Homo sapiens: one gene and its partners. The protein of the gene in region 3 purifies or fractionates together with the protein of the main gene of each other region. This does not show direct contact. Each region holds a gene or a part of one and is shown on either strand. Other genes may lie near its edges. The genes, in order: FBN2, AGK and PRDM1.

Region 1 (3,655 bases), on a different chromosome or scaffold from region 3:
ATGCGAATTTTGTCTTTTTTTTTTTTACTGTGTCTATTGGAATGTGAAATTTGAGTCATCAAAAACAATGCATTATGAAATAAAATAGGGACTATAAGAAGTATTCTTACACATAATTAACCAAATCAATGGAAATTTAAAAGAATTCTAATTTGCAAGATGAAAAATGCTTCTGACGCTCACTGCTATACAAGTGAGTAAAACTCCTGAAAACAGTATTATATAAAACTTAAACTGCATACTATATTCCAAGTGCTATCAGGTCAGGGATATTGTATATTTCATCCATCAATATATACCGAGTATTGAGAACAGATAGAAAGACCACAGATGCTCAACTTAATGGTTTCTAATTGTCTGGAAATCTTCAAATTATAATTTATATGTATAATCTCCCTAATTGTCATTGCACCCATATGAATTAGTCACTGTAATTATTTATTATTCCTATTTTATACATGAGAAATTAGTTTCAGAAAGGATACATACTCTGCAGGAGGTTCCACAATAAGTATCTTAAGAGTTTTGATTTAAATACAGACACGTCTCTCAACTCCAAGCCTTTCGCTTCTTCTCACAAAGAAAGTGCCATTTTAATTCCCCAAATCAATGATCTTAAATTTGTAACTATGGAGTTTTAAAGTTGAGAATTGTAGGAATGTTTCTATTTAATTTTATGGAACATAATAATGGCAAGATAAGGCTAAGAAAATCCATTTGACCAGTGAATTGGAGCCACTGAAAAAGGCCTATGTGTTGCTTTTCATCATTTCTCTCCTTAATTTCATCAATACATTAAATGGAACATTTAAATACATATACCCTAAGTAATATTTGGTAACAAATGCATAATCACTGTTTCTTATTTGGCCTACTGGTTCAACTCTTAGTATCTATAGTTATTAAAAGTTGCCATTCTCCAGGTCATAAAAGAGAGCCTGATGGACAGCAATTTTAAGACAAGCATTTTTGCTCTTATCTCTATTATCTTTCATTTTTTCTTTCAAAAGAAACTGTCTTGTGAAAAAAACATGACCAAGTGAAGACAAGCTCTATTTTTTGCCTAAAAATTTCACTGATGTCTGAGGAAGAAGATGTAAAAGGCACATTATGACAATGGGTTGCTTTTATGTAAAATTCGCTCATAAAAAACACTTTTTGCATATTTTCCACGGCTGAACTAAAAAAAAATCCTTATTGAATTTAGTTTTTCTCCAAATATTATACTTTCCATGTCTAGCACAGTGACATACAGTAGTTACTCAAGAAATATTTGTTTGATGAATAAATCAATAATTGACAAGCACAGTTTAAGATAATGAGTTTAAATGGACTAATGCTATCAACTCTAACTCTTCAGCAATGGATCTTATTTTCAGGATTCACAAGCCTATCCAACATAATGTCTCAGAAGTTAGTGTTTGAATCCCAAAGAGGATCACTTGGGAAACAGAACCATATGATGCTCTTGGGAATTTTTGGAACTGAGCATCTCTAGTTTTAGCATGCAGTGACTTTGACTATACTGTTAGATATATGCGTGTATCACTGATGTGGCAGTCAGCAGATGCACGAGCCGTGTGCTTACCTGTTCCTGGAGTTGGGCATGGTTCACAAGGTTTGTTCCAGGCTTTGCCCACATTATATGTGCAGCAGCACATCCTTTTTGTCACATTGAAAGGCAACTCATTCTCACAAGTGGTTCCATTATAGCTTCGGTAGCAAAAGCTTTTTCTCATGTCTATATAAAGAAAAACAAAGAAACTAGCCATTTGTATCCACGAGTAGTTTATAATGAAGCCCACACAGCTGTAGACATCAAGCTTTCCTGATGAACACAACTCGGAAACCCTTTTTAGTCATTTGAAGCTATCTTAAAATAACTCCTTAAACATAAATCATTTTTAGATTAACATCTCTCCTTTATCCTTAAAGGTTTTCACTTATAATTTTCTTGGGAGACAATGTTAATACATATTTGTTTTTCTCTCAAAATCATTTATTTAATTAAAAAAATAAAGCATTAAAATTTAAATGTTCTTTTATTTGTAAATTAATGTTCACACTATATGAATGGAGATGAAAAATTTAAGAATATATAACATTTGAGGAAATTTTCTACATTAGACTCATGCTTTTAAAAATTTAAATGTATACCCAAAGGTCAAAAACTTGATACTAAGCCAGCAGCTTGCAAGACTCTGAAATATCTCAATTCACGAAGACTGAACTTCCAAACTTCCAAACAATAATTCTGAGACGTAAGTGCTTTATGTGTGAAGTCAACAACTGTGCTCTAATTAATCTCAGAGTTCTTTACCTACCCATGCAGTTGTGGCCTCCATTGACCTGCATGTACTCAGGTGGGCAAATGCAGGTGTAATTTCCCAGGGTGTTATAGCAGGTCCCAGGCCCACACACACCAGGATGTGCAAAACACTCATCAATATCTAGAGTAGGCAAGAATATCTATTAATTAATAAATCTATTTTTTCAATGAATTTATATTACTTAGATGACTGAACAAAGCATAGGTGATTCTCTAAATCCCCATTTATGCAAAACTTAGAAATAAAGAAAATATCCCAAATATGCATTTATATAACACAGATACATCTTTCTTCAAAAGAAAAAAATCCCCATATTAAAAAATATAAAGCATCAAAAGAAATTATTCTAAAGTGGCAAAAAATAATTTCCTTGGCACATATATATATATATATATATATATATATATATATATATTTTTTTTTTTTTTTTTTTATTGCAATTCGCATTCTTCAATTGGAATTTCTTTAAAGCCTGCTTTTGTCCTATGTCACTTAGGCTAAGTTTTAATGCCAACTTTAAAGTGAATGCAGGTTGGGAAAGCCTTTGTCTTTGTAGCTTCTTTCAAATTAGTAACTATTCAGAGATTCTTAAAGCAGTGCAGCTGCTGGTTGTTCTCCTCATTACATCCTATTTCTTCCAGATACATTTATCAAACATGTTCCAAAAGAAAAGTTATAATGGAAATAATTACGCTACATGTTTAATGTTCAGTTAGAAGCATTCACTCATTTCACAATTAAAATATTGAGATTCTACTGTAAGCTAGAACTTATGGCTGTAATGATGAGTAAGATGTGGACCTTGTCTCCAGAAGCCCCCAGTTTAGTGGTGAGACAGGCCCCTAAAAGAATTGAAATACCATGTGATCAAGTGGGGGGATGGAAGCAAGAATGGCAGCTGCATAACCTTTGAACTTCTTCATACCATATAGTCCAACATTTAAAAATTACTGATCAATATTAAGTTAATGGTCACATTTTAGCTTACCAATTTTTCCTATGTAAAATGTAATTCTTATCAATATTTTCACTAATAACTTACTTAATATTTTAGGTTTTCACACTACCCCATTTTCCCAATTTATATTTAATCAACCCTCCTGGAAAAATACAGTGAATTATGGCAACGAGCCATAAATTAATTTGTCTATCATCATACAACTTAGCTACATTGATATGAAAAAAAAAAAAGCTATGAACCAATCTTAATTGAGCCTTTTGTAGAATGTGAGGATGGGCCTTTCCCTCAGGCCTCAGCAGCCATTTTGTTTTAAACAGCACTGAGCATTTTAGGCATCAAATTCATCTCACCTTCACAGATGCGG
Region 2 (3,655 bases), on a different chromosome or scaffold from region 3:
CTGTGGTAACTATGGTACAACAAATCTTGACAGCAGTGCAAAAAGCAAAGCCTTGTTCTTTTTAAATAGCCTTAGGCTTCTGCCATTTTATGAGGCCTACAGAACTCTGAACTCAGGACAGACTTCCTGGATTACCTAACAGCCCTGGGGCATGCTTATAAATTAAGTTTTATAAATTTTTAAACTATAAATAGCAGCAGCAACAGTAGTAGTTTAACTACAAGAGAAAATCAGTTCCCCCAAACTGAAGACTCTCTCAGACCCTGGGGGTTGCCACACTCTGTGTAAATTAGCTTTTGGACAGGCAAGGGGTCTCCAAGGAAAATGGTCTACCCTTGGATCAATGACATATGCTATTTGGAATACTGGCTAAAGCAATTCAAAAAATCTACACTGACACAAGGAGAAGACAAGCTCTCTAATGTAACCAACACCTGAATCAGACAGGATTCATCTTGGAAAAGCAAAAATGTGAGCAATTAACTGTCATTATCTACTGCCCCTCAGAAATTCTAAACCGGGAATAAAAAGTATGGCCAACTGACTTTGGGAGGCCGAGGCGGGCGGATCACGAGGTCAGGAGATCGAGACCATCCTGGCTAACACAGTGAAACCCCATCTGTACTAAAAATACAAAAAATTAGCCGGGCGTGGTGGCGGGCGCCTGTAGTCCCAGCTACTCGGAGGCTGAGGCAAGAGAATGGCGTGAACCTGGGAGACGGAGCTTGCAGTGAGCCGAGTTCGCGCCACTGCACTCCAGCCTGGGCTACAGAGCGAGACTCTGTCTCAAAAAAAAAAAAAAGAAAGAAAAAGAAAAAAAAAGGATGGCCAACTGAAATGGCCTCTCCTGTAGTTAGGCCCTCAGGATGGCTAATGAATAGCTGAATAATCCCCATTATATTAAGGTTTGAAATATAAAAGAAGTTTGAATGAAGATCTGACATATATATATGTGTGTATGCCTAGTGTTTTGAAAACTGGACTAAGATGCTTATTAAAATATAGAATTGTTAAAAGAGATACAGTTGACTCCTAACATTACAATAGCAAAAATAAATTCACAAAAGCCAGCCTAATCAAAGAATTCCAAAGCAGAAAAAAAAATCCTTAACCAAAACAGAAAATCACTTGGGTATTATTATTATTTATTCTAGAAGATTATAACCAGAAAAATCATGAGAAAATTTTCATTAAATCATGCAACAAATATTTATTTATTGACTTCCTCCAATGTGTCACAAAGCTTACGTTAACCATCAGGCAACTGATCTCTCAGCTATCTCTCCATTTATTTGGGTCTTCTTGACAACTATTTGCTCAAAATGATGTTATTAATCACTGTCAAAGCTCAAATTCAAGATTCCTATCTTCTTGAAAGAGCAGAGCTTTGTTTACATAATGCCTTCAAGCAAAAAAGAACAATAATAACAACAATTTGCTTGACTCCCAAAAACACTGTGAGACTCACAGCAATTTAATTTAGATGTCAGAGCTACACTGCTTTCCCAGTCTACTTTGTCTACACTGTCTACCACTTTAAGTATTCCCAAAAGGATGTGGCTATATTTACTTGTTTTAGCTATTTTTAATATCAAGATAATGAAGCCAGGCTACTAGTTCAGTCTTCACAAGGGACTTGTTATTTGTCATTGCATATACTTAAAGCAAACAAATGAGCAGCACAAATATGTCTTCACTAAAGAATCTTACAATGTACAAGCACAAAAACGGTTTAGGTCAGGGATATTATCTTCATAACTGACAAAAGGACATCAAGTATTCACCTCCCTACCTGACCTGGAGACTTATTATAAGAGTCCCACAACCAAGTTGGGAGACTTCCCAATGAACTGAAAGGCTGAACTCTGATCTAGGTCCTCCTCTTAATTATTTGAAGTTTCAGGCTATCAAAACTCAAGAAAGTTATAGCATACACATAAATTTTTCATTCCCAGTCTCGCTCACCCACAAATGCTAATTCCCCACATTGACAACCTACTGGACTTTGTTTCCACTTTCGGCAAAGAGGGTATGACTCAAACTACTGGTCTCTCCCAGTGGGATAAATCCAATGGGAATCTTACTGAAGGTAGCCTGGGGGGGGAAAGAAGAGGAAAGTTTTATTGTTATGATCAGAAAATCAGGCTTAATGGAGAAGCACAGGTGTGTCCACTATGACAAATAACTGACCCTGTATCTGCCTCCCCATCTCCTTTCCACATCCTTAGACCAGTAATCAAATAAAGCTAGGTGGGTAATTTCTAAAACAAGGCAGTCAATGAAAACAAAATGACTCAGAATTTGGAAGAAATATTTTAGTACTCATTAATGACAACTGTTTGAAAGAAATTTGGTTAAGATAATGAGGGTTTTGAAGATAATATATCAATGCACTAGTGCAACAGAGACTGTATAACATTGTCACACTATTTGATAAAGTTGCAGATAAAATTCAACTAAAAATGTCTACCATTTATACAGTGACCAATGACAGGTGAAGGTGCTTTATAAACTATCTTAAGTACAAATAAGGCAAAGAGAATAAACAAGTTCAAATAATAGATGGTACTGGCATAGCAGTTAATTAAATGCCACACATACAATAGATACTGTAAGGTTCAAAACAATTCTGAGCACAATGTACTATTACCAAAGGGACTGAGAAGGATCTTCTAGCTATTGTAGAAAAGTGCATAAAATAATGTTACAAAAACACCCATGTGCCCACAACCTATATTTAACAAATGTTAACATTTACCTTTTTGCTTCATATGTTTCAAGAAATAAAACGATAGAGATACAATGAAAGTCCCTTCTAAAACTATTCTCCTCTCTCCCTTCCCAGAGGAGACCATTATCCTGAGGTTGGTGTGATTCCTTTTCATCCACATTATTATTCTTTTGCTACATATTTAAGCATCCATTAACCATACATAGTATTGTTTTCTGAATTTTAAAACACTGTAGAAATGCATAACATACCTGGGCAACCTGCTTTTTTTTTTATTCAAAACTTTTGAGATTTAGCCATGTAGATATTTATACATTTAGTTCATTCATTTTAACTGTTAGATGATTCCCACTATATGAATATGCCACAATTTCTTTTATGAAAAAGTTCTTTGAAAAAAAGATTCCATAACAAAATTTTAAATAACCATTGTCAAAGTTATTGGATACCATCAATTACCAAACCAGAAAAGTCCCCATGTGTTAATATACGTGTTCTATGACATGGGTAGCAGTATTTTCTTTTCTAAAATTCAAGAAAGCACAATTTGTACCCGTTTTAAAATATACAATGGAAAAAAAAAGTAAAAGAAAGAAAAGCAATAAAAAAGAACAGAAAAATAAAAGTTAAAATGCAATTACTCTTTAATGCTCACCTCATCTGTTCGTCGAAGAACACCAGTAACAACCTACAAATGTAATAATAAAACATTGTTATAAATAATATGTATTTCCTTTACAATAAAAGAATTGGATTCAATTTTCATAGACCATAAACTTACTCCTGTTTTCTTCTTAGAAGCTCTGTTAAAAGATGCACTGGATCTTAAAACATATAGTATTCTCCAATAGAATCAGAGCTAAATTAGATTTTATTTTTGACCTATGATCAATAATACAATAAAGGCTAAGATAAAATAATTAT
Region 3 (3,655 bases):
ACAGTGTAGGGGAGAGAGACAGCAGGGAAGGGAGACAGGAAGGCCAGAAGATTAAGAGTTGCCAACGGGAGGGGCAGGCTTACCGGCCAACGCCCAGCAACCTAGGAGGTGAGAAGCCTCCTTGTGGCACCTCCAGTGTGGTATTAAGCAAACGGGGGGATGTGGGCACACAGCACACGAGGGGCTGTTTATTTCCCCTACCATTTTCCCACCCACTGGAAGCTGGCTGTGCCATCTCAAGTCATCAGCAGATACAAAGTACTGGGAAGGACCATAGTGCCATCAGTCCAGGATGGGACAACGCAGAATCTGGTGTTGGCTTTAACTACGGGCTATATAGGACATGGGAGGGTGACTCACAGACATTTTCTACAAAGGTCAGAAGGTCTACCCAGAAAATACTGCGCACCTGGCATTCATGTGGCTTTTCTCCCGTGTGTACCAGGTAGTGTTTCTGCAGGTGGGCGAGCTGAGTAAAGCCCTTGTTGCAAGTCTGACATTTGAAAGGCCGTTCTCCACTGTGCACTCTCAGGTGGACCTGGGAAGAAGCCACATGTGTTAGCTCTGCTCTCAAGCTGGCTCTGAGACCTAACATTTCTGCTCCAAGACTCAAGTGTTGATGCAAATATCTTAAGAAAAGCATCAAGACAGTCTTAAAAAGAAGAAATCTTCATGTTTTCAGAATGGTGTTTTTCTTAAAAGCACAAAAATCACAGGCTAGCAGGGAGTTTCACCTAATCTTCTAGTCCAAACCCCTAATTTTTTTATTATTCAGAAGAAAATCAGGAGAAGGGAAGTCACTTGTCCAAAGTCAAAGAGCTAGAAGTGGCAAAAGCCAGGCGGAATCCATACCCACTATCCCCAACCGGGGGCTCATACTACTGCAAATGCAATCGATACCCCATGGAAAGCAAGCTAAATACAAACACAAGCATGCACTCACAGCCCCTTGGACTGCTCTCTCTCAAGGCCTACCTTCAGATTGGAGAGCTGGCCGAAAGTCTTGGCGCAAACGTTGCATTCGTACTTGATCTTGCCGTTCTGCTTCTTCAGCGGGTAGGGAAGGGTCTTGTAGCCGGTCATGTTTCTTTTGTTTTTAATGAGATTCATGGCTTCGTCGCTGCTGGGGGCTGCCATCGCTGCTGAGGTAGCTTTGGGCTGCACCACATGTTCTGCCGTGGCGGCTGTTCCCGCCGTGGGAGACCCGCTTGTGGGGCTACAGGCCTTGTCCTTCATGCTGGCGGCGGCCCCGGTAAAGGAGAAGGCACTGTGGGGCGCCGGGACAAGCACCTCCCTGGGATGCTCCGGCTGGAGCAACCTCCGGGCTCCATCTGAGGGCAGCGAGCTCGGGAGAGAAGTGGGGTTGAGCATGGGGTGGGGCAGGCTGCCCCCACCGAGGAGATTGCTGTAGACAGGGCACAGCCTCGGGAAGAGGCCAAAGTTGTTGATGCCATTCATGCTGCTCACAGCGCTCAGGCCATTACAATTCATGCCGTAGGGGGGCAAGAGGAACTTGGGGTAGTGAGCGTTGTACGAGGGGATGAAAGCTGGCGGGAGGTGGGGCAGGGGTGCGTAGCCAGGGTAGGAGCCCAAACCTTCCGTGCCGTAGGACGCGTTCAAGTAAGCGTAGGAGTCCCGGTGCTCTTGAGAGCCGGGGCCCACAGGGGACACCGTATTCCCAGGGCTGCTGTGAGGGCTGGAGCTCTTGAGGCTTTGGTCGGGGCTGCTTCTTGCAGAGGGGCTTGGAGTGGTGGAGGATGGAATGGGGGAGCGAGTGATGTACGTGGGTCTCTCGATCCCGTAGGCCAGGGAAGCTTTCAAAAAGTCTTCTGGCAGAGGGGCCCGGATGGGGTAAACGACCCGAGGGTAGAAGGGCATTTCGGGGCTCCCACGTCTTCTAAAGTCATCGAGGTCCTTTTCTGATGTGAGGGGTGAAATGTTAGAACGGTAGAGGTCCTTTCCTTTGGAGGGGTTGGAGTCCAATTTTAGGATTTCTTTCACGCTGTACTCTCTCTTTGGGACATTCTTTGGGCAGAGTTCATTTTTCTCAGTGCTCGGTTGCTTTAGACTGCTCTGTGTTTGTGCTGAAATAAAGAAAAAGGGGCGATTACACAGAGGGCTAGAGAGAACTGAAGCAAAACTGCCAAAGTTGCTCCTCCTTCTTGAGAAAACCTGAGTAACAGCTGGCGACACAATCGCCACATATCTGGCTTCCAACGCACTCTCATTCTAGAAGGCTCTGGGCCACTCACTCAAAAGTGCAGTTCCGTTTCCTCCTCAGCAAAATGCGGACAATGGCAGCACAGACAGAACAAACAGCAGCCTTGGGTGATTCTGTTTTCATTAGTACAGACCTTATGATAGAAAATTGCTGTTTAGGCTGGAGTAAGATAGCCTAAGCTGGATGCAGTGGCTCTTGCCTGTAATCCCAGCACTTTGGGAGGCCGAGGTGGGCGGATCACCTGAGGTCGGAAGTTCGAGACCAGCCTGACCAACATGGAGAAACCCCATCTCTACTAAAAATACAAAATTAGCTGGGCGTGGTGGCGCACACCTGTAATCCCAGCTACTTGGGAGGCTGAGGCAGAAGAATCGCTTGAATCTGGGAGGTGGAGGTTGTGGTGAGCCGAGATTGTGCCATTGCACTCCAGACTGGGCAACAAGAGCAAAACTCTGTCTCAAAAAAGAAAAAAAAAAAAAAAACTTCCATTTTAATGGAGTGGAAAAATACTGGGGTGGGGACCCTGTCATAGGTTAATAAAAGTCTTTCTGATGTTCATGGTTTACCTAAAGGAAATCAGCATACCCTGAGAACTAAATGTGAAAGATTAAGACTCATTTCAAGTAATACACAGTCATCAATTTTCGCTTCTACTCTTGTTGAATACGAATTTGATAAAGCCCTGTTCAAACTGCCTATGCCAAGGAGCTTAGCGAAGTGAATACCACCTTCCTCGCGATGTGCAGACAGCCTAAGCACTTCACCAAGGCTCTGTCTGGTCTAGCCAGGATCCCAGCAGTGCTGGCCCCTGGAGTCACAAGGCGTGACAGTCACCTCTGCCAAACCACAATAGGTACTTCCTGAGCCAGTTCAATTACTTAGCGCACCCAAGAAAACAGAACAGGCTAAGAGGAAAGCACTTATTCCCAAAGACGGCACGTTATTACTTGGTAAAGATACTATTTAGGAACAGCAGCAATGAGGACAGTTCTAGACTATCCCTGCCACAGCCAGCCCTGTCTCCTCGCTACACAATAAATGATGCCTTCAGGAAAAAACACCCATCTGGGCAGGGAAAACTGAAAATTCCCTGCTCAGCCTTGCCTGGAAACCAAAAGTAAAACATACGATGTTTAGTTTGAGCTCTGATTATTGGAGGACAGTCACTCAAGCCAGGACACCTGCCCTAGGAACGCACTGAAGGCATTGGCTGTCAATGTGTGGAGATGCCTTCAGAGGCAGCAGGTTTGGGGGATCATGCTGAAGCCTTTGTGCAAATATCCTTCATCGTCTAAAAAATGTCTCTGCTTGAATTTAGTTGAGAAAGAACTCCACACTTGCTATCTGATAGGTCTAGAAATGAACTCTGTGAAACTCCAGAACTGAACCCTTTAAATGTATTCTCTAGGCTGACTGGCTTGAGGGATTCGATTC

Evidence for each region.
Region 1: the proteins of PRDM1 (region 3) and FBN2 purify together in Homo sapiens (affinity purification with mass spectrometry; one large-scale study listed by BioGRID and IntAct). This does not show direct contact.
Region 2: the proteins of PRDM1 (region 3) and AGK purify together in Homo sapiens (affinity purification with mass spectrometry; one large-scale study listed by BioGRID and IntAct). This does not show direct contact.

What each region holds. Positions count from the first base shown.
Region 1 is NC_000005.10:128,307,659-128,311,313, forward strand, and holds part of FBN2 (fibrillin-2 precursor), read right to left. Parts: coding exon 3,642-3,655; intron 2,451-3,641; coding exon 2,325-2,450; intron 1,742-2,324; coding exon 1,589-1,741; intron 1-1,588.
Region 2 is NC_000007.14:141,613,910-141,617,564, reverse strand, and holds part of AGK (acylglycerol kinase, mitochondrial isoform 1 precursor), read right to left. Parts: intron 3,420-3,655; coding exon 3,387-3,419; intron 2,095-3,386; coding exon 2,000-2,094; intron 1-1,999. UniProt on the Homo sapiens protein: Lipid kinase that can phosphorylate both monoacylglycerol and diacylglycerol to form lysophosphatidic acid (LPA) and phosphatidic acid (PA), respectively. Does not phosphorylate sphingosine. Phosphorylates ceramide.
Region 3 is NC_000006.12:106,103,254-106,106,908, reverse strand, and holds part of PRDM1 (PR domain zinc finger protein 1), read right to left. Parts: intron 2,085-3,655; coding exon 976-2,084; intron 539-975; coding exon 410-538; intron 1-409. UniProt on the Homo sapiens protein: Transcription factor that mediates a transcriptional program in various innate and adaptive immune tissue-resident lymphocyte T cell types such as tissue-resident memory T (Trm), natural killer (trNK) and natural killer T (NKT) cells and negatively regulates gene expression of proteins that promote the egress of tissue-resident T-cell populations from non-lymphoid organs.